7 separate regions of the Homo sapiens genome follow, and regions 1, 2, 3, 4, 6 and 7 are each linked to region 5. The links come from fine-mapping of genetic effects on gene expression. A gene starts in region 5. Each other region holds a variant in brackets. All regions are shown on one strand. Distances are from middle to middle. Region 1 has its middle 6.4 kb from the start of LINC02698. Region 2 overlaps LINC02698 (long intergenic non-protein coding RNA 2698). Region 3 has its middle 270 kb from the start of LINC02151. Region 4 overlaps CADM1 (cell adhesion molecule 1). Region 5 holds the start of CADM1 (cell adhesion molecule 1). Region 6 overlaps CADM1 (cell adhesion molecule 1). Region 7 overlaps CADM1 (cell adhesion molecule 1).

Evidence for each region.
Region 1: its variant is fine-mapped to the expression of CADM1 in nasal epithelium (TOPMed, PIP above 0.99). The same link has a PIP of 0.9 or more in esophagus mucosa.
Region 2: its variant is fine-mapped to the expression of CADM1 in unexposed skin (GTEx, PIP 0.98).
Region 3: its variant is fine-mapped to the expression of CADM1 in lung (TOPMed, PIP 0.92).
Region 4: its variant is fine-mapped to the expression of CADM1 in thyroid (GTEx, PIP above 0.99).
Region 6: its variant is fine-mapped to the expression of CADM1 in monocytes after LPS (Fairfax 2014, PIP 0.95).
Region 7: its variant is fine-mapped to the expression of CADM1 in transverse colon (CEDAR, PIP 0.91).

What each region holds. Positions count from the first base shown.
Region 1 is chr11:115,650,951-115,655,044 of GRCh38, reverse strand. No RefSeq gene overlaps it. Among named protein-coding and RNA genes, the nearest start is that of LINC02698, 6.4 kb to the left of the region's middle. The variant G/C (reference allele first, on the strand shown) is at 1,725.
Region 2 is chr11:115,750,887-115,754,980 of GRCh38, reverse strand. All of the region lies in intron 2 of LINC02698 (long intergenic non-protein coding RNA 2698), which reads right to left. Among named protein-coding and RNA genes, the nearest start is that of LINC00900, 7.3 kb to the left of the region's middle. The variant T/C (reference allele first, on the strand shown) is at 2,427.
Region 3 is chr11:116,229,942-116,234,035 of GRCh38, reverse strand. No RefSeq gene overlaps it. Among named protein-coding and RNA genes, the nearest start is that of LINC02151, 270 kb to the left of the region's middle. The variant A/G (reference allele first, on the strand shown) is at 2,365.
Region 4 is chr11:115,180,539-115,184,538 of GRCh38, reverse strand. The region is part of intron 10 of CADM1 (cell adhesion molecule 1); the gene reads left to right. Among named protein-coding and RNA genes, the nearest start is that of CADM1-AS1, 210 kb to the left of the region's middle. The variant T/C (reference allele first, on the strand shown) is at 2,248.
Region 5 is chr11:115,502,659-115,506,751 of GRCh38, reverse strand. CADM1 (cell adhesion molecule 1) reads left to right here and starts at 2,337. Exons shown (of 12, transcript NM_001301043.2): 1 at 2,337-2,481. The coding sequence starts at 2,358. RefSeq lists a silencer at 2,152-2,311.
Region 6 is chr11:115,172,162-115,176,242 of GRCh38, reverse strand. CADM1 (cell adhesion molecule 1) reads left to right here. Exons shown (of 12, transcript NM_001301043.2): 12 at 1-4,081. Among named protein-coding and RNA genes, the nearest start is that of CADM1-AS1, 220 kb to the left of the region's middle. The variant G/T (reference allele first, on the strand shown) is at 2,113.
Region 7 is chr11:115,207,474-115,211,473 of GRCh38, reverse strand. It overlaps CADM1 (cell adhesion molecule 1), which reads left to right. Exons shown (of 12, transcript NM_001301043.2): 8 at 1,817-1,900. Among named protein-coding and RNA genes, the nearest start is that of CADM1-AS1, 190 kb to the left of the region's middle. RefSeq lists an enhancer at 1,455-2,654. The variant G/C (reference allele first, on the strand shown) is at 2,152.

The DNA of each region.
Region 1 (4,094 bases), 150 kb before region 5:
GTTTTTTTCATCGTACCTAGAATACTGCTGAGCATATAGTAGATGCTCAATAAATATTCGGTCAAGGCATGAATTAAGTAGTGAATCAAGAGTCTTCAGATATGAGGGCTGGGAGAGACCTTGAAGATAAACTAATCTCTAACTCTCAATTTGCGGGTGATGAAAATAAAAGCCAGAGAGAGTTTTGTAGAGAAGGTGATGTTCAAGCAAGGTTTTCTTTTCTTTCCTTTGTTTTCCTCTTTTTCAGCTCTTTCAGTTTGTGCATTTGTTCATTCATTCATCCTTTCACTTATTTATTCAGAAAATATTTATTGGACACTACAAAGTACTAATCACTGCATAAAAATAATATTTGAAATTTAAATTATTAACCATCAAAAAAATAAGTATTATATTTTAATGTAATATTGATCACTTTCTTCCAGACACCTTGCTAAGCGCTTTACATCCATTATTTCATATGAACAACCATACACACTATTATTGGCCTCATTTTGCAGATGATAAAATTAAGACTAAAGACACTGCATGGCCTGCCCTAGCCACACAGCTAGAAAGTGGAGGAGGTGAGACCCATGCTGAGGCCTGTTTGACTCCAAACTTCTGTGCTGTACCACTGCATCTTGTCCCCGCTCCCCACTCTTTCTTTTTCCTTCCCATCTCTGGGATCAAACCAAATGGCCCAATCGAGGCGGCAGAAGAGTCAGCCAAGGTCACCCCGAGCTGAACCCTTTTGAGGCCACACAATCCTGCCACTCCACTGGCTCCCTTGAAGCTACCTCTCCCTGTCCCAGCTGTTCTCCTAGTCCCGGCCCCACGCTCCAAGTCCCATATACGAATGCTGGTATGACTCACAGCGCCAAGATCGGTCACTGGGAAAGAGGACTCATAAAACCTTACAGCAGTTTTATAATGTATTCTTAGCTTTTACAGGCGTCCTGGGCGGCCGAGGCTGGGTGGATGGGCGGGCCCCATAGACCCAGAATTGGTGAGAACCGCTACCATGTGTGTGTGTGTGAAGACAGCACCGTCTTTTAGCTGCCTGATAGGGGAAGGGCAATACAAGAAATGGCATTTCTTCAGCTCTTTACAGTTTAAAAAGCACTTTCACGTGTAATGCCCACCAGATAAGGAAGGTATAATTTCAGAGTCACAGGTAAGGAAACTGGTACAGTGCCAGGACTTGGAATTGGGCTTTCCTTCCTGAATTCGGATTTGGTGCTCTGTTCCTGGGACCAGCTGGCATGGCACTAACTCTCAGTGACCTCAGCTACGTCTGTCCACAGAGAGAGATCCTAGGCAGCAGCATCCTCAGGTAAGGGGGAAGAGTCACCTAAAGTCGACACTGACACAACCACGGGGTCTCAGTCCAGGCCCTGTTACCAGCACATCCCAGAGCAGCCTCTGAGTACATTTCTGCTACCGACACCCAAGGATAGGGGATTTTTCACCCACATCTGTGCTGCAGAAGTCCTAGCTCGACTCCTTCACCTCCCTTCATGCTCCCCTGACTATGTTCTGCAAGCCACCCCACCTTTCATGTCCAGTGCAGACCCTCATTTGTGCCAGGCAAGGGGGCTCAGGGCAATGATGCAGTAACGATGCCTCACAGTTGTAATCACCCACACTATCTCATTTATTTGGATTATTCCTGAGTTCCTAATGAAAAATAAGTAAAGTGGGTCTTGTCATCCCTCTTTTACAGATGAGGTAACAGGTTCAGA[G/C]AAGTCAAGCAATTTTTCATATGTCACATAGCTGGTGACTAAGAGAAACAGGATCTGAATCAGGTATTCTGACTCAACTCCAAGTTTCCCTCTTCTCTTCAGTAAATTTCTGATAGTCCCAGCTTGCCTCTAATTGTTCAGTCTGACAATATTTCCAATTCAATGGATTTCCTGTTTCCTCCAAAATTGAAACCTGGAGCTGACTCTGTTAGCTACTTTGGTCCAGAATGGGCATTTTTGAGCTTGTGAGTTTTTGAGAGTGCAGCTGGGCGGTATTCCTTAGGTATCCATTTCCTTACCACTGACACTAACACCAGCCCCCAGTAACACAACAGGCACCTCTAAGATCGTCTCACTTAGGCCTAAGCAAGGGACCCAGTTAATTCTCCTTAATCCTCCATTTATGGATCACTAGCCCTTCCATGCAGGAGAACACCTAGCATGGTGTATTAGTCCATTTTCACAGTGCTATAAAGAAATGCCCAAGACTGGGTAATTTATAAGGAAAAGAGGTTTAATTGACTCAGAGTTCCGCATGGCTGGGGAGACCTCAGGAAACTTATAACCATGGTGGAAGAGGAAGCAGGCACCTCTTACATGAGGTGAGAGAGTGTGGAAACTGTCACTTATGAAACCATCAGCTCTCGTGAAAACTCACTATCACGAGAACAGCATGGGGGAAACTGCCCCGTGATCCGATCACCTCCCACCAGTTCCTTCCCCCAACACATGGAGGTTACAATTCGGATTGCAATTCGAGATGAGATTCGGGTGGGGACACAGCCAAACCATATTACATGGTTTCAATTGTCTTTCCCTGGAAACGTCACCATGAGGCTTCTCCAGCACTGGTTCCTTTATAGCATCCAGCTCCTTGTGTGGTAAACAGGACCCTGCACTAATCTGGCCCCCTCCTGCTCCAGGAGCCTCATGTATCTCTGTGCCTTGTCCCCCACTGTGCCCCAGTCACTAGCACTGCCTGCAGCCTGTCCAGGGACCCTGCTATCTCACCCTCCTTCCACACTGCTCCCTCCCACCTGGACTGCTCCCCTACATGGAAGGCCCTACCCAGGCCTCTTGGCCTGGCAAACACCTACTCATCTGTCAGGACACAGCTCAAATGTCACCTCCTGTGAAGTCTTTCCTGGTACACACCCCCATCATCCCTGCCGTAGAAATCCACCACCCCTCCTCTACACAGCCCTCACTGAGCCCTAATTAAAGAACTAGCTCCCCGCTAGGTCTGAGAGCATTTTGAGAGCAGGAGTACTGTTTTATTTCTCTCATCATCTACAAAGCTTATCACAGAGCTTGGTAAACTAGAGATGCTATATGAGCCCTCACTGAATGTAACAACACGTGAATGGATAAACAGTTAGTCAATTCCACATTACCTGTGGAAAGGAAGGAAAGGAAAGCTACACCAACGTGGAGCTTAAAACTTTACCTATGTCTCCATCCACAGATGCCTGGATAAGCAAAATGTGGTAAATAACATACAATGTAATATTATTCAGCCTTAAAGAGGAAGGATATTCTGACACATGCTACAACATGGATGAAACTGGAGGAACTTGTGCTAAAGAAATAAGCCAGTCACCGATAGACAAACATTCCACTTATATGAGGTACCTACAGTAATCAAATTCAGAGATAGAAAGTAGAATGGCATTTGCCAGGAGCTGGAGGAAGGGAATAATGGGGAGTTGGTATTTCATGGGTACAGAATTTTAGTTTTGCAAGATGAAGAGTTCTGGAAACGGATGGTGGTGATGGTTGCACAACAATATGAATGTACTTAACGCTACGGCACTATACACCTAAAAACACCTTTTTTTTTTTTTTTTTTTTGATGGTGGGGAGGGAGTCTCACTCTGTTACCCAGGCTGGAGTACAGTGGCGCAATCATAGTTCGCTGCATCCTTGAACTCCTGGACTCAAGAGAGCCTCTCATCCTAGCCTCCCAAGTAGCTGGGATTACAGGCTTGTACCACCATACCTGGCTTTTTTTTTTTTTTTTCATGTTTTTGTAGAGACATGGTCTGGCTATATTGCCCAGGCTGGTCTCAAACTCCTGGCCCCAAGCGATCCTCCTGCCTTGGCCTCCCAAAGTGCTAAGATTACAGGTGTGAGCCATCAGACCTAGCCAGGAAAACTATTTGGAGCAGGGCATGTCTAGATCTTAGCGGCAGCATTTTCTAGGAACTGGTACCTGTACCAAGCTGGTCAAAACTTTACAGAGCAAGGTGCTAGGGACTTGGTGATCAGGATAGAAAAAAGGGGCAGGGATCATTCAGATAGCATCTCCCCTGAGCGCAGAGAAGGAAATGACGAACAGTTATACTTGTAATATTCGTTAACTCCTCATGG
Region 2 (4,094 bases), 250 kb before region 5:
TGTCACCAGGCTGGAGTGCAGTGGCGCAATTGTGGCTCACTGCAAACTCCACTTCCCTAGTTCAAATGATTCTCCTGCCTCAGCCTCCCGAGTAGCTGGGACTACAGGCGTGCATCACCACACCCAGCTAATTTTTGTATTTTTAGTAGAGATGGGGTTTCACCATGTTGGCTAGGATGGTCTTGATCTCTTGACCTCGTGATCTGCCTGCCTCAGCCTCTCAAAGAGCTGGGATTACAGGCATGAGTCACCACGCCCGGCCGAAACACTGCTTATTACAATTTATAGGTTTATGTTCAAAAAGTTGCTAATCTTATTGCTGTGAACCCCTGCCATCTCTAGTCCTGCCCACCTATAGGTACTGCAGACCAAATTACAGATTCAGATTTGCCCAGTTCCTGTTCCTGTCTTGACCAATCCTAGTAACTTATTTGGGGCCCAGCCCCATCTTCAGTGGAAGGTCTAAAATTGGCCTTGCTTCCTTAAGCTGGGTACACAGTGGGCCCAGGACTAAGCCTCATGAAGCTTTTAGAGGCCCACTGAGATTAACCTTTCTCACCAGTGCTCACCTTGTCTTCCTAGTGACCATGGCTGCCTTCTGTCTAGTTCTAGAGTTGCACTCTAATTCTCTTCCAGCGCTGTTGCCCTGATCTACATATCTATCTCTTTTAGAACTTTCCAGCTTATGTGTCCAATGTCAGTCTTTCTTCCAAATAAATAGAACTTTATCTTGATGAATATTTAATGTTCAACCCACCCCTGGTCCCTGGCTAGAATCATCTCTGAAATGTCTAAAGCTCTGCCACTACCTGCACCAGGAGAAGCAATGTGTCACCACCAACCTAATAGCAACCATCAGCTTTGCTGGAGTTATCCATTCACCGAACTGAATCTATCAGCTTTCCTGAGTTCACTGGGACACTGATTTGGACCGGACACCATCACTTGAGAAACAGCGTTAGCACCAGGGTGAACACCACCAGTACCCGACCTGCCTGTAGTTAGCTTCCTCCTCTTTCCCTATTGACCCACAGATTAAGTTGCTGCATGCCCTGGGGCAACACCTGGGGGTATGACAACTGAAAACTAAGAAACTAAGTACTATACATCCAATTTGTCTGTGTTCACTGCCCACTTGACGTTTCTACTAGGATGCTTGCAAGATGCATCAAACTCCGTAGTCCAAGATCATACTCATGATCTTTTGCCCAAAACCATACCCCGCTTCCATTCTGATACTCCTCTAATCAGTTTTCCACACTGCAACCCAAGTGATCTTTTCAAAATGCAAATCTGTTCATCACACACATACACACTTAAAACCCTTCATTGGCTCCTCTTCGTCCTCAGGAGAAAGGCTCATATCCTTAACACAGGCTCCCCGTCCTGCGTGTTTGGCCCTGGATGCCTTTCCAGCCTTCCCTGGCCTCACTCTCCCTCTCCCCTGATATACTGCAGCCACCAGGGTCATGTTAGCACGTGGGTCACTCTGCAGAGAATTAGATAAAGGTGCCCCTTCTGGACAGCCCAGTTGGAAAAATGATGCCCTTTCCTCTAAGCTGATGCAGTGTCTCATGGGCGATCTCACTTGGCAAGAAAAGCAGGGCTGGATTTCAGCTCCTACTCTGCTTCCTCAGCCCAGCTGTGCCCCCCTGGTCCACAGCACAGCCTGTGCTGGCCAAACCAGTTGCCTGCCTTCTTTTGGGTACCCCCAAATACACCATGTTCCCTCCTCCCACTGGCTTTTGCTCTTACTATTTGCTCAACCTGGGATACTCTTCCTCTCTCTTTCTATCCAGCAATCCCCTACTTAACCCTCAGATCCCACCCAACCCTTACATCCTCAGGAAAGCCTTCCCGATCTCTCCTTCTTTCCAACCAGTTTAAGTTCCTTTGTAATACCCTCTCATCAGACAGGGCTTCCATTTCTCCTAATACTGATCCATTTTGGAAGCTTACACTCATTTGTAGAACGAATGTCTGACACCCTCATTGTATTACAAGCTCCATTAGTGCAGAGACCATGTCCTTTTCATCTCTCTCCATTGTAGTCCCAGAACTTAACACAGGGTCAGGCACATAATAGTTGATCATTAAATATTCATTAAGCACCTACTGAGTGCAGGCTGCTCTTTAGTAGATGGTAGTGTCTGGACTTTATAATCAGAACAACTTAAGCTTCCCAGAGGCATGATTAAGCACGTCAAAGAGGAAAATATTCTGTTCCACTTAATTATGCATTTTTATTTAAAAATAGAAGTCTTTATTAAAACAACAAAGCATAAATATTAAAGAATGTATTTAAATAACTTGTGTAATTTAGTGCAAGCTTTAAAGGTTCATAAACACTGAAAGGCAATTCAATGCCTTTTTAAATCGTTTTCTATCATTATCTCTACTTTATCTAATCTTGTCTCTTAACCCAG[T/C]TTGGAGGAGAAGTAATTCATTCTGACTCTCCTCATTTTGTCTCAAAACCTGCTAAGGCTTGTCCACAACTGCGGCATGTTTCTGGCCTCCCGGGCTTTAGATCAGATTGTAGCAAAAGCCTCTGCAGGTAGTTTGCATCTTACTCCACTGTGGGAGAGCTCCCACAGTTTTAATGGAGAAAGGTCCTTCTCATGAGAGTAAACATTTTGGATATCTATCACTCTTTCTCTTTGCTTCTTATCCTGGTACAGCAGAAAGAAGTCAGATCATTCAGTAACACAAGAGCATGGCTTCCATGCCACAACCCAGTGGTGGTCATTCTTTACCATTTCCCAGGAGCTGGCTTCCGAACCTGCCTTTTAGAGAAACTCTTCATGTGAAAACCTGTTTCTCCATTGTCAGGGTTGCTGATCAATAGCTTGATCTAGTTACCAGTTAGACACCTATATAACTGCAATTCCTCAGAACTTAATGTAGCAAACGATTAAGCTGATCCTAGCCGGGTCTATGAAAGAACAAATAGTGTGGTCCTACACTAGGTGTGGCCACCTGCCCATTGGGGATAAATGGCCCCTGCCACCCAGGTGGATCTGCTTCTGAGCTTAAACTTCCCTTCAATCTTTTTCCCATGGCTGTGTGTTTACAGGTGCACAGAGAGAAGCCTGTGTGGTGGTGAAAGCTAGAAAATAAGAAGTCCATCTATTCACAGAGTTGCAAAGAGGCCATTAATGCTAAGCTTCAGCAGTGGAACACAGAAAACGGCATTAAAGGATTTACTTTTCATGACCATAATTCACAGTTAATGTACATTTGATGTTTAATGTATGAACCAGAGGTGACTTCAAACTTGCGGGCCTTTTCTAAATAGCGTTTTAATCTAAGTTAAAAAAAAAAAAAAAGGTTCATACACTCAGTCTGTCAGAGAAGAGGGAGGGGAAAAAGGCAAAGCTAGGTGTGAGAATCCGAAGTGGGGGCAGGCTTTTGTTCAGTCCTTTATTGAGGTTTTACCTCTAATCTCTCCCTTTTTGATGCAATTTAAGATTAAGGAAATGAAAGGCATGGCTGACTGTGAATGGTTTTACAAACAGGACAGCCAAGGGGCCCTCAGAAGACAGTTTTGTAAGAGGCTTTGGGCTTCAGTCCCTAGGAAGGATGAGGTGGGAGGTGCTACAGGGCCCGAGTGCACGGGAGAGTGGCCCTGAAAGGGCTGGTCTGTCTGCAGAGAAACTGACCTTCTGCATCCAAATAGGAGGCAGTGGTGGCCACCACACAGCTCAGTGGGAATCAGAGTCAGGTGAGGGAAGCCAAAAAGCATGATGGTCAGAGCAAGGGGTGCCATGCTCTGCTGGGAGGAGCCCCCAGATTAAACATGCTGGGTCCAGGATCTATCATGTGATGTCACCTCTCAGGACAGCAGTTCCCTCATCCAGATAATAAGGTTTGCAGGCTAAATCAGTGATTTCCAATGGGCTCTGCTGAGACCCTAAGGCACAAACACACCCTCAGGTGCTCTGGCAGATACAGTAGGGGACTCACATGGAGAGACCCTGGCCCTTGGCCCTCAGCATTTTTCAACAAGAGCAACTCCACTGTTTTATAATGAAGAGTTCCACATAAGATTTTTTATACAGGGAAGTTTCCCAGTTAAAGATACAAACACTGAAAGG
Region 3 (4,094 bases), 730 kb before region 5:
GTATTGCATAACTGAAAGGCCCTGCTCTGATTTCCTCCCTCGTCCTGTAGGAAGCTTGGGACAGGCTTTGGTAACAGGAATTTCAAAAGGATGATTTTCCCCAGCGTGAAAATCCTCATCTGGCATCTTGCATCTGATGCAGCTCTTCTATCCACTCCTCCCTGCCCCAAAGGGGCCACTGATTCAGATCCCAGGCATAGACTTGTAAGCTGTCTAATTTTTCCCATGATCTCTTGCCCTTTGCTCACTCAACAGTGTCCTGGGAAAGAAGTTTCTGGCTGCCTACGCACTGGGCTCAGGAAAACACAGAATTAGCACTGCCTCAACTTTTATTTTTAACCATTGATTGATCTTGGTTCCAGCAGATTTATTTTCAGCATAGGGCCTGTGGGCCGGTGCTAATTTACATGCCTAACTGCTCTCCAGGAGCTAAACCTCTCAAGCGATGTTCTGACACACCGGGCTTTGTCACCCTGACCCCTTCTCATCTCCTCTGGGGAAGGGATGGGAACTGCCCCTGCCAAATGCAGGGGGATCAGTCCTGGAATTCCATTACCTTCCCTGGGACTGAGACTTGGTTAAGGAGCTACATCCAGCCCTTACTCCTTCTGAATTCATCGCAGATCCAGATTATACTAGATTTAGATTCTATTTCTTTGTATTTTATTCCTCCAACTCATATTTATTGAGAACTTACTTTATAAGTACACAGAGCTAGACGCTAGACATGGAGGTGGGATGGGGAATGGAATTCCATGATGAGTTAATCTTTGCCCTGCCTCAAAGTCGAAATCCAGAGGAAAAAGATTGTGAGACAAGTGTTTAGAATCAATGTGATAAGTGCTAAGTAGAAATTTTGCACAAAGTTTTGCAGGGAGAGGGAAGCTAGTTAATCTTCTTAGAGACTTGTCAGGAAGGTGTCATTTTATTTACATTGCTTAGTGCAAATGTAATTTGCACTATGTCTCTGCAAGTCAAGATCTTGTAGGGATAGGAACATTCCAGGCAGAGGGAACAGCATGTGCAAAGGTATGGAGGCCAGAAGGCAGATGAGGAACTTGAGAAAGAGCCTGTTCAATGTGGCTAGAGCACAGAGTGCATGACAGCAAGTGGTGAAAGATGAAGTGGGAAAGAAAGGCCTCTCTGCTAGTCTGAGAACCTTATGATCACCTCTGCTTCTTTATGCACTGCCTACCTCTCTAAACAGACCGCATGGGCCTTGAGGGGCGGGACTGTGTTGCTGCTGCTGCCTTGTCACTGTCTCATAGCTCCAGGCTCAGCGCTGTAGGGGCAGTAGCCAAAGGAAGAGCCCAGGCCTGGCTGGGCTAGCAGGCAGGTCCTCCTGGAGCCAAAACAGATCCTCCCACGTGAAGTTTGAAAGGAAGCATCTTGCAGCTCCGTCTAATTACAGGGTAAGTGAGCGGGCCTCCCTCATGGTTAATTTGCTATGTGCCTTTATTGCCAGCAGAAGACAGATGACTCACGGAGGGTATTCCATATAGGCCTGCCAGTAATTGTCTTTATGACTTCATGAGCCTTTTATGGGCTCCACTGGGAAAGGTGTTTTATTTTTCTTCTTTTCACTCTCCATTTTCAGTCGGTAAATAACCAACTTTCTGAGAGCAGGAGGAATGTCAAGTTCAGGATGTAGGTAAAGCAATCCCAAGATAGGCCATGGCCATCAGAATGGAGGCTGGGGTCAAAGCAGAGGACAGAGAGAATGAGGACAAGTTGGCACGCTAAAGGGTACATGAAGGGGGTAATGCCCATCAGTGATTAATATACACATCATCAAAATTTAAACATGAATAAATGTTCCTTTGCAGCAGATTTACTTTCTCAATGATGCTTGGCTTAGATTAATGATAATGTGAGTTTATGTTTCCAAAGTATACACAGACTGTTCTGCTTGAAGGGCTGGGGGAAGGAGGTGGGAGTGGGTAGATGGGGAAGAAATTTGTGGTGTCCCAAAAGAGTGTTATGTGGGAGGATAGTCACAAGTACTTTATATTTAATTAGCATCTAGTCTCTCTCTATATGCAAGAGGTGCAACAGTGAGACATTTGTTTAAATAGAATGAGAATGGAGAATGGAAGGGTGTTGCATGTCAGTGGCACTCTGGAGCTGGCTAGCCCTGGTTTTCAAAAACCAGTTGTTACATTTTCAGGAATTTCATGAGCTGTTTTACTTCATGTTGGCAGTTTCAAACAAGCCATAGTGGGATTATTTACACCATGGTAATCGGCAAACACTGCAAAGCAGAGACCCACCCTCACTCGACCGGTTGGTAAACATTTATCCACATACCATTGTTGTCGCCTTCTATACCACTGAAGTGTTTAAGAGGGGGTGAAGGACCGCCTG[A/G]CAGGATAAAAACTATGGGCTAATATTTATTGACCACTTACTAAGTGGCACGTACCATTCTAAGCACTTCACATGTATTTATTCATTAACCCTTTCAACTCCATGGGGTCGATGCTATTCTAGAGGCTAAAACTATACCCAGAAGGCTGAGACTTAAGAGACGGAGCCAGAAAGGATTATTAGCTTATATCCTCATTTCGTGGTTTTACAGATGAGAAAACTAAGAGCCAGAGAGGAGAAATGGCTTGGCCAAGGTCAGTGGCCTGGAGGTCTGTCTCCTGACTCCCCAAGCAGAGTCTGTTTCTCCTGCTCTTATTCTTCCAGCTTTCCATACTATAGTCCTGTTTAGATCCAGGCAAGAGCTGCACCTAAAGGCCTAAAAGAGGCAACCCCCAGGCCAGAGTCCATGGAATGAGTCCAGTGGGCTCTGTTTGTGTTGTTCCTATTGCCTCTGCTGCCATCGCTGGGGTCTGACTGCTCTCTGCTGCCCAAGTGCCATCCAGGGTTGCCTCTCCTTCCAGTTGCCATTGTCTGAGGGTCCCACTGGAAGCAACCGAGACTTCAGTCTCTCAGCAACCATCTGGAATAACAAGAAAAAATAAATAAAAATAAAAACCCAAGTCAGAGCTCTGCCTGTTAGCCCAGAGTCCTTAGCTGAGGGTGGAGGGGGTGAGCACAGGTGGGCTGAAACTCTCACAGCCCAGTGATTAGCCTGGAGAATTCACCGCTAACTGCATAGGAGCTCAAGGGGAGTCCAATGTGGAGCAGGGTTGGGAAAACGACTCTCCTCGGGAGCTGAGGCTCTGCCGCTTGCTTTGCTGATTGCTTTTGGTGTGAAAAATGTGGCCCGAGTCAAGGAAAAGAGACTCAAGATGAAAATCCCTTCAATTCTTAAATATATAGGTATATTCTAATGTAGACGGCATTCTAATATGGTAAACATTCCAATGTAGACTATAGGATCAGGTAGTCCCAGAGCTGAAAGGGCCTTCAAGAATGCTTTCCCCGCCTCCAGGCATCAGTGGGTGTTGCTGGCAGGCAGGGTGCTACGAAAGGGCTGTGCTGCCAGGGTGTCAGTGGCACCTTGCCAGATAAATTCACCTTTTTTTGAGGCTCAGTTTCTTAATCAGTTGAAGTAGGGGGTTTCAGACTATAGGGACCCTTCCAGGTCTGACATTCTAGATCCTAAACAAAAGGGAACAACATTTCAAAGATGGAATTACGCGCTCGCGCACACACACACACACACACACACACACACACACACACACACACAAATTGACAAATAGGAAAAGCTTTCAAAAATCTCATTCAAATTGCTGGATTTGTCTATTAGTGAGATTTGTTTCTTTGCATATGCTAATTGGTCTTGGCATTAATTAATCTGATTTCATTATATTCTCTTTAATTTGTCAAGATATCATTTTGTTATTGGGTGATGGAACACTTTGGAGGATTGTTAGAATTGGAATATATTTCCCCCTCTTTTAAAGCTCCTGGAGAAAAGTCGTTATCAATTAAGTTAATTTGCATACACATTAGGTTAATCGTTTTAGTTTAGCCAAATTTGTGGAAATTTACATAGCAAATTGACCCTCCACATTTCACTTAAACATATGTAGCACACCGAGTAGTATATTTTGAGTTGCTAATGAAACTGAGGTTATTTTACACGCTTCTTTTAGTAAAAGAGGTCTAATTAGACCAAGTAATTTTTTATTTCATCCGTA
Region 4 (4,000 bases), 320 kb after region 5:
TATATTAACATCTTAATGGGAAAGCTGTGCATGTACTGTATACATTTACTACTCTCTGACAAGAGGGAATTAAATGTCAGAAGGATTTGTAGCATCTATAATTGAATTGGTGCTGAGAAAAGCAAATCTTAAAGAAGAATAACATATTAGGATTAGCAAATAATGTGGCATTTTGTCAGCGCATGCCATTCAGTTTGTTCCCCTTCAGTAATAAAGTTGTGCTTTTTAAAATGCACACTTATTTTTGTTGCCATGGACGGGAGCTACAATAGATGATGAGAATGGGTAGCTACATTTTTCAGATGGTGCCAGGTTTTCTTAAGTGTCATTTTTTTTTTAGGTCAGATTATGGTTTTGCTTCAGATTTGGGAAATCCACTACCAGGCTTTTTCTTTCTTCCTAGCAAGAAGTAACAAATGACATCATAGTCACTAAGCTTTCTCTGAAATAGACTAATCCCTACAACCCTAGGAAGCTGGAGGCAGCATTTCCATTACAAACACCGATTCTGAGAGTTTGTAATTAAACTGACTTGTCCAGCAAGATCTCCACCCAGGAAAGGAACTAAAACTGAGCCACGTGACAGAACTGTTGCAAAAAAGTCCGCAACAATTCTTTTCCTCCAGTCATCCACGGATGGGGGAAGCACAGAACGCTGAGCATCTGAACTGTCCCTAAACAGAAGTAGGAAGACTAATACCGTTAGAACCTCCCCATGGCTTAAACGTAAAAATGAGAGCTGAGGTAGTTTATGACCTATGAAAAGAGTTAAAGTGTGCGTTTAAGCGCCATGTTGCTAAATGTGCCTTACAGCCTGAGCCAGGGATGTTTGAGATGTGAGGGTGACCCAGTGCAATGTGGCTGTCATGCCTCATGCTGCATACTTTATTGTGTATCATTGTGTCACCCTTCACTCCTTCTCAGAGGTAGAAATCTTGGTGTCCTTTTGGCAAAAAGACTGACCTTGGACTCTGTGTAGCCGAGGGCTTCAGGGTGGGCAGGCAGCAGTTGCAGTGAAGGTTCTGCTCAGTGAGTCCTTCTGCCAAAGTCCCTATTTGCCAGGAGCTTGTCTAGGATGTACTAGCCACTCTCCAGTTATCCATGGATCCCCACTTTGGCAGCAGAGCCTTCTAGGCTTATCACAGATCCATGATTATGGCATTTGCATGGCGGTTTATGCTACACATCTCATGCCAGGTGGTAAAGTAGCCATAGAAACCAGGATCTCTTGCAGAGCCCTGTTTAATACAGGCAGCATGGCTGCCAGAGTGCTGCGTTTAAGACGACTCTGGCAAGGAGTTTGAGGAATGAAAACAAGTAGAGAAAGAAAAGTCTCCTAGAAGGAGGGGAAAGGAGACTGAAGTTCCACTAGCAGTCACCTTTCTTGTCACGCCCTGGGGAACTACTGCCTTTAGAACTTCCCCTTCTTATTGCCCATGAGGAATGGATCGGGCCAGGTCAACTGGCCCAAGGTAAAGAAATCTGAGCAGTTTGGGGCATCACTCTTGGGAGTTTCTTTGAGATTTCTCTGTCCCGCAATTTCTAAGATGCTAAAGCGAGCCCAGGGTTGTTGAAGCTGTGACCCAAGCAGTAGTGGCCAACTTAACATTCTGCAAGCAGCTGGTAAACTCTCACCTGGAGCCAAGTTGTTTCAGCTTTTTGCCAAAAGAAAAGCTAACTCACGAATACTAAACACCTCATGATTTATCTGTCACACTTAGAGCCATGGAAGTGGCTGCGGGATGGGACACGACAGGCAGGGAGGGTTGTACCACAACTGTGAGCTGTCAGGAACACCTCCCTGCAACTGCTGCCTGCCCGCCCTGAAGCCCTCGACTACAGAGTCCAAGGTCAGTCTTTTTGCCAAAAGGACACCAAGCTTTCTACCTCTGAGGAGGAGTGAAGGGTGACACAGCGATACACAATAACCTTTACAGGGTTCATCTGCAAGTCAGAATCATTCAAGGACTAGGCCTAATTCACCTGAGGTCACATGTGAAATAATTTGGATGAGATTCTTAACTCCAGTTGAACTGTGTTATGCAATCATGCTTGGTTCACTGAGGCTGGAATAACCTTTATGCTGGAACCATTCACCAAGCAAAAACATGGCTTTACTTTTCAGGATGATGGGGCAGGGCTTAGTCCCAGAAAAGAAACACTCTTACACTTGTTACTAGTAAGAGGAACACTTGTAGCCTCTTAGGGAACAAGAAAACATGGCTTTCTAAACCGAAGTGATGTCCA[T/C]ATGCCTGAGCATCAGGCATGTTTAAAAGTGCTTTCCACTCCCACATTTATTTTTCAATTGACAAGCTAGGGGCAGCTGTAGAATCTGCCTCTGGTTTCGTTGCCTGCCCGATTCAGAAAATGAGCCGGGAATCTGAAGAGAATGTCCCCAGGAAAGCCAGCACTTCATGGGACCTGAAGAAGGGGTCTGCACCCTGCAGGACCAGGATCTGTGGCTCATGGGGAAACCCATAGCTTTCCCACTTAGAAGTCATTTCTCATGGAATTGGTTAGAGTCCTTGCCTTGGGAATGGAAGGAAAGGTCAAGCAGCTGACAGACTTTGTCGCAGCCATGCTTCTCTTAGTGCTCGGTATTTCCTTCCATTTCTGGTTTTCGTGCGACTCCAGTAGCCCAGTTCCCCCCTGGGCAGCATCTTGCACGGCTGCTTCATGTCATGAGTGAGGCACAGCCCGCAGGTGCAGGCAGCTCACCCCGGCCCTGCTGCCTTGAGCCAATCCATGGCATTATAAACACTCCCCCACCCTCCCCACACGTGGAAATAAAAGAACGGACTGAGATGACTCCAGAAACAGCTCTGCTTTTCATAGGGAAGGCCAAGACAGAGGCACTCAGTGAACAGGCACAACTCTATTAACACCTCCCACGTAAACCCAGGAGGTGGGAGTGGGGGTGGGAAGAGGCGGTGAGGCGCTCGTAACCGGCAGTGTTCCCTGTAAATTAAACATCAGTTACCTTCTGTGTCCATCTGCAGTAATTGAAGGCAGGAGAAATGTCTTGGTGATTAACTGGTGGTAGTAAACTTTCTGATCAAAGTGGGTATCAGAAGATAGCTGGAGAGATTACCCTTATAAATAAGTATCTGTAAAATATGTATGTCCTTGAGGGTGGGGAAGATAACTAGAACATCTAAGGTTCTAGTTTAATTTGGGCAAAGTGCAGGGAAAAATAGCAACACTGAGCATATTTAGCTCAAAGTTCATGGAGGGCAAAGGTCAAGTAAGGAGTTTCGGCTCAAGAAATTAATCTCACAGATACATATACCTCGTGAGATCTTTTTGTTTGAGGGAGGTTTTTGTTTTTCTTTGTCACAGAGCCTCTCTCTGTCTCTCCCCTCCCCCCTCCCCCCTCAGGCTTCCAGAATATTCCTGTGTCTAGGCATGGAGAGGAGGCGGTCTTTTATTAAGAGTGGACAAGATAGTGTCTTCCCCTAGATGGGTTAGAACTGTCCTGGACAGCTTCTCGAAGCTTCTCTCTGTTCTCAGTCTTCCTGGAACCTCTCTTCACCTCTTGCCTCTTGTGCCTAACTTTCCCCTGTCCTCAATGTCTAGTCTCACTTGTTTTCCTCCCCCAATTTTAAAACATACAGAGTTCATCGAAAGACACATAAATTTTAATAGGTCTGAAGCTCATGGCCATTGGAGATGAGTTAATTCTCATTCCCCCAAGATTCCCTATTTTGACAGCTCCCTAAGGAAAACACAACTTGCTGGCTTTTCTGTTACTTTTGTCCCCCATGAGCAATTTTGCATCTGTGCAGTTGGACTGAACATCTCCAGTGTGTCAAGCGCTCTCCTCCAGCAGACACCCCGTGTCCAGCAGCACCCCACGGGGAATGCTCCCCTTCAACGAGCTTTGTCGTCTCTAAAAAGGAAAAAAAAAAAAATCCCTTGACCGAGTTCTGCCTTGTTGAAATGACTTTCAAGACAATGGGGGTTGTAGCATCTGCAGTTGGCAACACTTTTGGCTGAGGAG
Region 5 (4,093 bases):
ATAATAGTATGTACCTTGGGGATTGTTTCAAGTATTAAATGAGATTTTGCATGTAGAATACTTAAGAATTCAGTGAATGCAAGAGTAGTAATAATAGTAACGGCAGATAATAATGTTACTATGTGCCAGGCTCTGTGTCAGGATTCTTGCCATATAGGACCTGCCTTTATAGTTTACATATCACTTTCAGCATACATATGGCCTTACTTTTTTTTTTTTGAGACGGAGTTTCACTCTTGTCGCCCAGGCTGGAGTGCAATGATGCGATCTCAGCTCACTGCAACCTCCGCCTCCTGGGTTCAAGTGATCCTCCTGCCTGAGCCTCCTGAGTAGCTGGGATTACAGGTGTGTGTCATCACGCCTGGCTAATTTTTGTATTTTTATTAGAGACGGAGTTTCGCCGTGTTGGCCAGGTTGATCTCGAACTCCTGACCTCAGGTGATCCATCTGCCTCAACCTCCCAAAGTGCTGGGATTACAGGCATCAGTCAGCGTGCCCGGCTGGCCTTAACTTTTTTATTCCAATTTTGGTGGAACTTTGCTCTCTATTTGGTCCGACCCAGGTACCTCACTGCCAGAGGTAGTAAGAACGGGTAGGACTTTGCAGACTGGGCATTATCCTGGCACCCACGTGGCAATGGTTTCCTGTCTCCTGTAGTGCTGTTCTCCTGTTGGAGCTTTCCCCACTTCTGAAGGACTGCCTGCAGTTCATGCATCGGGGCCTGTAATTACAGAGCAGAATATCCAGGGCTGTGAAGACCGGGCAGTCTCGAAATTAGTTTATGCATAATGGATAATAGGAGGCTGTTTTTAAGTGTAACTCATTTGGTGGGTTGGCAGATCATGACTTCCTTTTTGATATGTATTATTTATTTATTTTATAGCAAGATGAGGACAGAAGGCTGGGGAAGTCATTTGGCGCAGCTCTTCTAGACTATAGCTCAGACTTAGCAATTTACATTCAGTAATCTCTTGGTCATTTAGCCACAGATAATTTGTCATGGTTTGTTTTAGCTGTTGTGATATTGATATTTATTATGCAAATTGTATTTCCTACATCTTATTGTTCTGCATTCTATGAATACTTAAATTATTATAAACCTTTACACTTAATATGGCTCGTCCTTCAATTTGATGCTTGAGCAACAGAGGGTCAGAGCGCACACGATCTTCTAGAGGGGAAGAAAATAAGTAATTAAAAAGCAGACAAACAAGAGAGCCGGCTGCCTGGCTGAAAAGAAAGCAAAGAGAATTTCGGGGAGGGAGAGTGAGTCCGGAGATGCAAGTCGCTTTAGCAGGAGAGGCTCTCCCAGAGACAGGGGAAGCTCGGAGCACCTGTTGGTCCCCAGCTTCCTTAGGAAGGGCTGGGGGCGCAGAGGAGGAGTGAGAGGGTTTGAGCCCCGAAGGAGGAACACGGCAGACCCTGCCTTCACCACACTCCCTCTCCCCAACTCCCACCACCCCCGCTCTTCACCTGAAGCCTTGACTAATTTTTTCCGTTGTTGTGTAATCTTAAATATCTAATATTACAAATATTTCACACATATATTCAACACACACCTATATATTAAAACCAGGGAGGAGACCCTCGACAAGCGGAGGAGCCTGAGCATACCCTCCTCGATCTACCTTTCCCGAGATTCTGCCGCAAAAAGACCGACTGGAAAATCTCAGAACCCGACTCTACGGCTGCCTTCTCCAACTATCCCCGAGTCTACCGCTAGGCTGTTGAGCGGGCTCTCCCGCTCCGCCGGACGTGCAAAGCACGCATGCACTTCTCCCAGATTGTTTTGTCAATCCGGGGACCTGCCTTCTTACTCTCCACTCCCGCACAGCCCCCGTTCCCAAAGATCTATTCCTTCGGTGCAAGGTGAGTGACGGAAATTTGCAACGTCTGGTTCGCTAGGCCAGATGCACTCGGTGTGCGGGACAGAGGACCCTCTTAAGGGAGATTCTCCAGTCGTCGGTCTGATACAGCGATTGCTATAAACATTCCTAATAAAGGTGTACAAGAAGCTAGACCCGCCCCCTGGAGCCCGAGTCCTTGCACGCCAGGCGCCCGGGAGAACACTTTTTCCTTGATCCGGGGAAAGCAAAACCCGAATTTTAACATAAACATATTTGCATACGCCCCTCCCCTTGGCCCCGCCCCTAGGTGGCGCGGGCGCGCCGCCGAACGCCAGCGCCAGGGGGCGGGGTGGGGGAGGGAGCGAGGCCCTCCGAGAGCCGGGTTGGGCTCGCGGCGCTGTGATTGGTCTGCCCGGACTCCGCCTCCAGCGCATGTCATTAGCATCTCATTAGCTGTCCGCTCGGGCTCCGGAGGCAGCCAACGCCGCCAGTCTGAGGCAGGTGCCCGACATGGCGAGTGTAGTGCTGCCGAGCGGATCCCAGTGTGCGGCGGCAGCGGCGGCGGCGGCGCCTCCCGGGCTCCGGCTCCGGCTTCTGCTGTTGCTCTTCTCCGCCGCGGCACTGATCCCCACAGGTAGGTGTGGGCACCGACCGGTTGGCCCCTAAATCTCCGAAGGCACCCCAGTAGCCTTGGCCACAGAGGGGGGAAACGTTTCCATGACAACCTCCCCCCACTTCCTACATCCGAAGCGGAGGGAGTGTGGAGAGGAAACTCAGGGCTGAGAGGGAAGGGGCTGAGGGCATCTGTGAGCCCCTTCTCCCCTGCCCGGCTAAGTGTGAATGAGAGTCCCCAGGGATGGCTGCACCCACACCTTCTCTCCCCGGCTTGGCGCGGGGTGCAGAGTGGAGTGAGAATGGGGGGCCCGGGGGCTGTAAAGCATGGGGGAAGGGGATGGTTCAAAGACAACCTCAACCCTTCCGGACCCTTCTAAACTCGCCGTTCTCCCCGTAACTTGCAGGTCCTCCCACCTCCCAGGGCTGTCCATTCGCCCCCACCTCTCCAGAGGGCCCCCCCAGTTCTCCATCCCCGAAGCCTCCTGGTGGCTGACTCCCAGCCGCCCGCGGCGTGATTTCTCCCCGGTCCCCAGGACATCCCCAGACTTGTCTGATCTCCCCTGCCCCTTCCCCCAACGCGCTCTGCCTTTCTCCCCTGTCCCCAAACTGCACGCCTCTCGTGTTTCCCTCCGGCCGTTCGCAGCCCTCCGCCCCCTCGGCTCTGCTGCGGGTCTTTTTGGCCCGGCTCCAGGCGGGGAAAGTTCCCCGGCCCGGCCCCGCGGGGGGGGCGGCCGCTGTCGCCGCCTCTGCGGGAAGGCGCCGGGAGCCCGCAGCCCGCCCGCCCCACAGCGTCCTCTGCCACGAGTGGGGACACGGGATTTCCCGGCTGCCCGTTCTTTCGGCGGCCCGAGGGTGGCGGAGGGGGCGTCGCGGCCTCTGCGGCCAGGCGGGCACCCTGCGGGCCTCCGCGCGCTCCCTGCGTGAAGAGCAGTCTTGGGAATTTGCCCAGGGGCGGCTCTGCACGCCCGGTGCCTTCCCTGAAGACACCGAGCACTCGGCTGGAGCCCGATGTGTGGCTGCCCGTGTGCCGGGCGCGTTGGCGCGGTCGGGAAAGAAGAGGGCAGTGTTTGCTTTTGCTAACAAAAGGGAGCCGGAGCTCTTCCTCAGCGGAGAGGCCGGCTGTGCTGCACCCAGCCTCCCTTCCCGCCACCTCGCCGCGCTTGGCAGCCGCGCGGCGTCCTCTGGCCCCTGCTGCAGGCTCCAGGCGGGCGCCGGGACCGAGTGGCACGGGGCCGCGGGGTGCGAGCGGCGATGCAGGAGGGGATGCAGCAGGGCTCTGAGCCTGCAAAGCCCCTCCTTGCAGCTCCAGAGCTGCAGGACCCGGGAGCAACAAGTGGCGGAGGACGCCGAGAGCTCAGCCCCCACCTGCGGAGCCCCAGGCCCGGGCGGGCACAGCGTTGGGGCCACGGTGCTGCTTCAGGGGCGCCTCTCCGCTTGGGCTGTGCCTTTTGTTTACACGCTAGAGGACACACAGTTATGTAAACACCGCAGGAGACACGCTGTAGGAGACGGGGGATGTGTGGGGGTGCTAGCTTGAGATTTGGGGGACGCCGGGTTGGCTGCTTGCCCCCAAAATAGGCTTGCAAAGGAGCTCGGCTTGGGAAACCTATTGGGGGGCGTCTGGCAGCAGC
Region 6 (4,081 bases), 330 kb after region 5:
TCTTCCTACCAAGTCAAACTTGGATACTTGGATTTAGTTTCAGTAGATTGCAGAAAATTCTGTGCCTTGTTTTTTGTTTGTTTGTTGCGTTCCTTTCTTTTCCCCCTTTGTGCACATTTATTTCCTCCCTCTACCCCAATTTCGGATTTTTTCCAAAATCTCCCATTTTGGAATTTGCCTGCTGGGATTCCTTAGACTCTTTTCCTTCCCTTTTCTGTTCTAGTTTTTTACTTTTGTTTATTTTTATGGTAACTGCTTTCTGTTCCAAATTCAGTTTCATAAAAGGAGAACCAGCACAGCTTAGATTTCATAGTTCAGAATTTAGTGTATCCATAATGCATTCTTCTCTGTTGTCGTAAAGATTTGGGTGAACAAACAATGAAAACTCTTTGCTGCTGCCCATGTTTCAAATACTTAGAGCAGTGAAGACTAGAAAATTAGACTGTGATTCAGAAAATGTTCTGTTTGCTGTGGAACTACATTACTGTACAGGGTTATCTGCAAGTGAGGTGTGTCACAATGAGATTGAATTTCACTGTCTTTAATTCTGTATCTGTAGACGGCTCAGTATAGATACCCTACGCTGTCCAGAAAGGTTTGGGGCAGAAAGGACTCCTCCTTTTTCCATGCCCTAAACAGACCTGACAGGTGAGGTCTGTTCCTTTTATATAAGTGGACAAATTTTGAGTTGCCACAGGAGGGGAAGTAGGGAGGGGGGAAATACAGTTCTGCTCTGGTTGTTTCTGTTCCAAATGATTCCATCCACCTTTCCCAATCGGCCTTACTTCTCACTAATTTGTAGGAAAAAGCAAGTTCGTCTGTTGTGCGAATGACTGAATGGGACAGAGTTGATTTTTTTTTTTTTTTCCTTTGTGCTTAGTTAGGAAGGCAGTAGGATGTGGCCTGCATGTACTGTATATTACAGATATTTGTCATGCTGGGATTTCCAACTCGAATCTGTGTGAAACTTTCATTCCTTCAGATTTGGCTTGACAAAGGCAGGAGGTACAAAAGAAGGGCTGGTATTGTTCTCACACTGGTCTGCTGTCGCTCTCAGTTCTCGATAGGTCAGAGCAGAGGTGGAAAAACAGCATGTACGGATTTTCAGTTACTTAATCAAAACTCAAATGTGAGTGTTTTTATCTTTTTACCTTTCATACACTAGCCTTGGCCTCTTTCCTCAGCCTTAAGAACCATCTGCCAAAAATTACTGATCCTCGCATGATGGCAGCCATAGTGCATAGCTACTAAAATCAGTGACCTTGAACATATCTTAGATGGGGAGCCTCGGGAAAAGGTAGAGGAGTCACGTTACCATTTACATGTTTTAAAGAAAGAAGTGTGGGGATTTTCACTGAAACGTCTAGGAAATCTAGAAGTAGTCCTGAAGGACAGAAACTAAACTCTTACCATATGTTTGGTAAGACTCCAGACTCCAGCTAACAGTCCCTATGGAAAGATGGCATCAAAAAAGATAGATCTATATATATATATAAATATATATTCTATTACATTTTCAGTGAGTAATTTTGGATTTTGCAAGGTGCATTTTTACTATTGTTACATTATGTGGAAAACTTATGCTGATTTATTTAAGGGGGAAAAAGTGTCAACTCTTTGTTATTTGAAAACATGTTTATTTTTCTTGTCTTTATTTTAACCTTTGATAGAACCATTGCAATATGGGGGCCTTTTGGGAACGGACTGGTATGTAAAAGAAAATCCATTATCGAGCAGCATTTTATTTACCCCTCCCCTATCCCTAGGCACTTAACCAAGACAAAAAGCCACAATGAACATCCCTTTTTCAATGAATTTTATAATCTGCAGCTCTATTCCGAGCCCTTAGCACCCATTCCGACCATAGTATAATCATATCAAAGGGTGAGAATCATTTAGCATGTTGTTGAAAGGTTTTTTTTCAGTTGTTCTTTTTAGAAAAAAAGAAAAACAAAAACAAAAACAAAAAAAAAAAATCACACCATTGCTCACAGAATTGGCATCTCATTTTTGGGACCTCCCATCTTTCTGTTTTGAAAAGTGTACAGTAGTGCAGTGTTCCTGATGTAACTTTATGGCTTACAATGTTGACATGTCTCAGGTTCATGTGTT[G/T]CGATTGGTGTTTTCCGTCTCAGGTAGATTGCAAAGTGTAGGCCCCACACATTGGAAAAAATAATAATAAAACAAAGCAAAAACAGGAAATTATGGATTTTAGTTGTATATTGGTTTATGTATTTTTTCTTAAGTATACAGTGCACTGTTTGAAATGTATTGTTGAGTATTACTTTGTACAGGTTGATCACTTTTTTTAGAGTGAAGAAAGAACAAACTTGTTTTTTGTGTTTTTTAAAGGAATATAAAATAATGAAGGATGTATAATTGATGCCAAATAAGCTTGTTCTTTAGTCACACCGACGTCTTATTTTTCCCTTTAGGCCAGTTCTGTTTTTAAGGTGTACATGGACAATGTTACAGTGTAAGAAACTCCATATCCATATGTTCCCATTCGCATTTTGTATTGGTTCATGTATACCATTTTTACAAAAAAAAAAAGAAAAAAAAGAAGTACTATAAAATATCTGTCTTCTTAATAAAAAAAAATTAATGTTACAAAGTGATCCTTTAATCTCTTTATGGACTTCTTATGGACGCCTCCGAGTGAGAGAAGAGATGGGCCTCTGGTCCCAGCTTCCTCCTTAGGACCATGTACGGGGCCAGGAACGCTGGCAGTAGATGCTAGGACATGCTGCCGGCTGGGTTGCTGGGGGCCGCGCTCTCTCTCCTTCTCCGCTCATCCTTCCTGTCCTTGTTCTCTTCCCCACTCTCAGTGGACAGGTGAGCCAAGTGCTGTGCCGTGGCTGAGTCTGGGCTCCCACGTGGACTCAGCGATTTGTGCAGGTGTGCGAGCTGTCGTGGCGGGCCCGCCGGAACAGGCCGCTCCCGTAGATGTGTCTTCCGCACTCATCCCCTCTCTCACCGCCCCCCCACCCTCACCAACTTCCCTGTGTTGGCTGCTCCACCTGTCTCTTACTTTGGGAGTTTGTGTCTTAACAATTCATTCTGCCTTCTTCCTTGAAAGTTCTCTCTCCTTTCATAAAAAGAAGACGTGAGCTGTGGAGGACTGGCTTGGCTGCCTGCAGAAGATTGTTCTCACTTGCTGTTTAGGTTGCTGAGACTTCCAGGCCTGGGTAGACAGCAGGATTTGCTCTGTTGTCATCGTCCTTGCCTTGCAGGCTGAAGTGAGCAATGACTACACTTCATGGTGGCCGATCTTATAAATGTGCAGATAACGTCTGGCCAGGCCCAAAGTGCCCTTTTCCCACCATCCCCTCAGCTGTGGTTGATGAGTTCCCCTTTTCTCCCTTGGCCACGTCATGGGGAAAGTTCCATAGGAAAAGCAAAGGTAAGCTCCAGAAAGACTGAAGGCTGTGCATCTCCCCTTGAGCCACTTCCATCCTGGCCTGGTCTCTTACCTGTCTCTGTTAAAAAAAAAAAAAAAAAAAAAAAAAAAAAAAAATCAGATATGCAGTTATTGAGCACCTGCTGTATGTCCAGCATGGTGAGGGATGCAGAGAAGTATAAGGCGGTCTCTGGAGGCCAAGTAGAGCATCAGTTACATCACCTGAAAACTTGAAGTGACCCTGAGCCATGGGTGCCCCACTGAACACAGAGAAGCCCAGAGAGTGCTATGAGAATTTTCTGGAGAAGGGTAATCAGTGAAGGCTGGTGAGTCCCTAGACAGCTTCACAAAGAGCTGGGACCCCAGCTGGATCTTAAAGGATGGTTTCGTGGAGAAGGAATGTGAGTCAAAAGTACAGAGGGCAACAAGCCCAGCCAGCCTGCTGATTTGTATGGGGAGAAGAAAGCAATTCCGTGTGCAGGGTGGGATGGGTCTTGTGGCTGTACTGAAAAGTCCGGGCAGAGGACTCGATACTTCAGTGACCTCTCCCAGCCTCTGCCAGAGGGCAAGGAGCAGTAGGGAGTACTCATTCATTGCATCTCTATAAAAAGACCCAGAGAGATAGAATAAGGATCAAAAGCACACACTAGAGAGAGGCTGCCTGCATTCAGATCCCTGTCC
Region 7 (4,000 bases), 300 kb after region 5:
AATAGGATTATAGTATATCAGGGGAAATCTCCCAGGAACAAATGTTCCTTTTCAGTAGTAGATATAGTAATTGAAGCAAAACAGAAAAATCACATTAACTGACCCTGTGCTGGGCAGCAGGCACCTCTCTGGATATAGTTTAGTTGTGTAGTGGAGGGAGCGGGACGTCTTTAGTGCTGGGCTCAGGGGTCAGTGCACTTGGTTCATTTATATCTATGCTGACACCTGCAGCAGGTGTGTAGGTGCATCCAAATGAGTTTCCAGGTCACAAAATGCTTCCCTACCTGTGGCCTCCATAAAAAGTGTGAAGGAGCAAGACTGAACACATGGCCTGAATCACCGTATTTCTCATTCTGCCTTTCTTTTAAAAAGGTAGTTTAAAATCACTAACTTAACCATTTTTACCTCTTGGAGGAGAATGAGATTTTTTTTAAACGACATCCTTTTTTGGACTCACGTGAGGCTGCTTTAAATGAAAGTGTAAACTGCTTGTATCCCCATCTTAAAGGAACGGAGCCTCCCATTGAACAGAACAGTTGATTCTTCTCTGTTAATTTCATCCAAGTGTGTTTGTGTGAGAGAAGCAATTTGTGAGGAAAATTAAAAGCTCAGATTGTTGATCGATGGTAGATATCATTTTAAGTAGACTTTGCAACCAAGCACCAAAATAATATTTCTATAAACTTTTGGGAAGTTGCACCAAACCCAATAAAGGTGCAGTATATAATTAAAGTTTTGATGTATTAATTAGACAATCTGAGAGCTCACTTGAAGATAAAAGGACACCAGATGTGTCAGGGAGAAAAAGTTGACATGCTTTAGATAAAATTTAAAATCAAAAGCTTTCAAATCGTCTTATGCTCTATTATAGCAGAATGATTGCTTAGTTCAAAGTCTTGCTGACAATTTAACACATTCAGTTTGATCATTTGGGCTTAGAATTTTTTTTTCTCTTTCATATTTGCCCCTCCCTTGTCTCCAAATAATTTTTGAGATGATAGAAGAATATACAGTATATCAAATATCTGACAGAGGGTTCCCTATCAGGTTCCTGGCTTTGAAGGTCGAGTCTCATTTATATTTAGTTCTCTTGTTTACAAGATGGAAAACGTTCTTTCAGTTTTATCACTGTAGTCTACTTAGGTCAAGCTTTTAATATGAGCAAAGGCAACTTATTAATATTTATAAGTTGTAAAATTTATTGACTTTTAAAGAATAAAATCTCAGTAAAATCTCACATGCCTGGAACTTGATATTTAGTGGTGACATTCTCTCTTCTTTGTATTTATTATGAGTAGAGAAGTAGTTTTACTTCCTGCTGGGTTGTATTGATGGAGAATAATGAAGTTAACAGTCACAGAGAGCAAGTGTGCAGGGGCACGCTCATCCTTGGCTGATATGAGCCCCCTAATAGAGCAGCACCACCTCCTCCTCCTCCTTCCTGCCATCTGTAAAAGCTGAAACGAAATGACAACCATTGTACCCTCTTGGTACTGAGTTGATTTAACCTCACCTTTGAAATCTGGTAGGGAAGAGGGGTGTCGTATGTTTTGATTTTTCCTCCCCTCTCTTCACATCTCCTCATCCCTAATTCACTTCATTAATGAAAATTCTCTTTTCTTCTTTTCTCAGCTCTTCCAACTAAGGCTTTGGGATATAATTACAAGACATAAATCTTGCAGGGAAAGAACTTTTGGTTTTAAAGGGGGAAGCCATCAAACAAACATCTCAATGTCCTCATGCCTTTGTTTTGTCATTACTGGTCATTGTTGTGTTCAGCATTGTGGGTTTGATTTTCCTTTTTTTTTCTATCCAGATCCCCCCACAACTATCCCTCCTCCCACAACAACCACCACCACCACCACCACCACCACCACCACCATCCTTACCATCATCACAGGTATGGTATCTTCATTACCATTGAAAATGTCCTGAATGTATATTGTCTTTCTGGTATGTATAAAAAGAAGCCGAAAAGTTCCCTTTAAATCCTTGGAATTTAATCGTTCCTTTATTTTGGAACTCCAACGACATTAGATACTATGTTCTTAAGTTGAATCTTAAGGACCTCAGAAACATCCCAGCATTTAACAGTACGTCAGATATTTTGCAGCTTATGCATAAAAGAATTCTTTTTTAAGCATCACTATT[G/C]AAAGCAAAATGCTAGGGAAAATGGCAGCTGGCTACTAGAGAACACGCCTATAGCTTCTGCTTAGACATGTTTGATGAAATGGTAAGTACTGTGGCTTTCAATCTTGTCTCTGTCTTAGTTTCATCTCAGTCCATGTAAGGGAAAATATACACACCTAACTTCAATGTGCCTATTTGGGCCATGCTACTAAATGCATAGTCATCCTTCCTGCTCCAGAGAGTACCCGCTGACAAGTGATACTACCTGTTTGTGTTGCCTAGGTAGTCACAAGAGATCAGAGGGAGTCACTGTCTTTTCCATGCTGAGCACTCATGTGCCCCTCCCTGCCCTCGGTCACATATTGGAAGAGTGGAAGAGGCAGCCACTGTGGTTCTAACTCTGCGGCTTTATCTTTTTGGACTGTCTGAAACTCTTATTCAGCATGAGTTTTACTGTCTCTTGTTTCTGTCACTGAGGGAGGTGGCATGCCATCCAGCCCTTCCTGGCATCCAGTGGCTCTCTCATACTGCTTGATGTGGCTTGTCTGGGAGCCATGGGGTTTCTTCTGCCTACCTAAGTAGGAAAGCTTCTGGCCACACTATGTCCACTTGACATGAAGGATTTCCCTAGATAAGGCCTTCCCAACCTGTGTTTACAGGGACTTAACACAAAAACATGTGAAAGTAATTATTCTGTGAGAAAAAAATATCTCTTGAAAGAGTAACTTTTCCGCTGCATTTTGTTAGCTGGTGAGACTGCAAGGTATCTGAACCGTGTGCCCTGGTACCCACCCCTGTCTCTGGACTTCTTTATGAACACTGAGTATTTGACTCCCCACCCTTCATGGTCAGCTCCTTTTAACACCCTAGATATCATTGCTGTCCTTTTCATTGACATGCTAGAGACATTTCCAATTTTCATGGGAGTCAGTAAGATAGAGATGATGAAAATTCAGAGTGTTCAAAGAAAGAGGAGGCCTCATCAGTTGATAGAATATACAACAGATTGTCTAATCTCAGTTTTCTTCACTTTTCTACCCATTACAGTGGAAAAAAGAACCCTTAAGGAAGCCAGTGCTTCTCAACATTGGTTACAAAACCATCAGTGCCAGCACTTAATTTAAAATCTTCTGAAAATCCATCAGTTGGTTTTCATGTCTCACTCTAAACTCAGCTCCAACCAGGCTGCTTCCTAGATTCTTGTCTGTGTGTGTTTCTGTTTTGGCTCTTTGTTACTTCCTTCTGTAAACTTAAGTAAACTCAGTTTGTTGACCTAGTGAATTGATTCTTTCCATTTTCTATACTATTCACCAGCATATCAAAGATGCTTCTTCCTAACTCTGATTTCCAGAGTAACTGTGCTATCAGCTTTTCATACTAAGAACTAGGTTTTTACCTTTTCACATTTCTTGCCTGCTACCCAGTTCGTAAGCCAAATTAGACTCGTACTCTTGTGAAGTGCCCTTTAGATACTAGTGTAAAATATACTGCGTAATTCTCCATTGCCCTACATATATTAACCCTTTAAGAAAATATATCACCAGTCTATTTTATCTTCGCAGAACTTGCCCAGGTATGAGCCAGCATTTATTACCACTCATTCTAGAAGGTGCCAGTTAGGTAGCTATCCAGGTTTACATTTTAAGGCAGTCGAGACCTTATTCACGTGGTATATAAACAACCACATTTCTCTTTTATATGGAACAACACTTTTCATTTGCGGCTGGCCTTCTCACTAGCTTATGCTTTTTTTTTTTAAGACCTTTCTTAGCACTCGCTGAACTCCTCCCCCTCACAATCAATCTCAGCAACTCAGCAGAGTCGCTTCAGTTCACAGCTCTTAATCCTTCACTCCAGACTAAAGCTAATC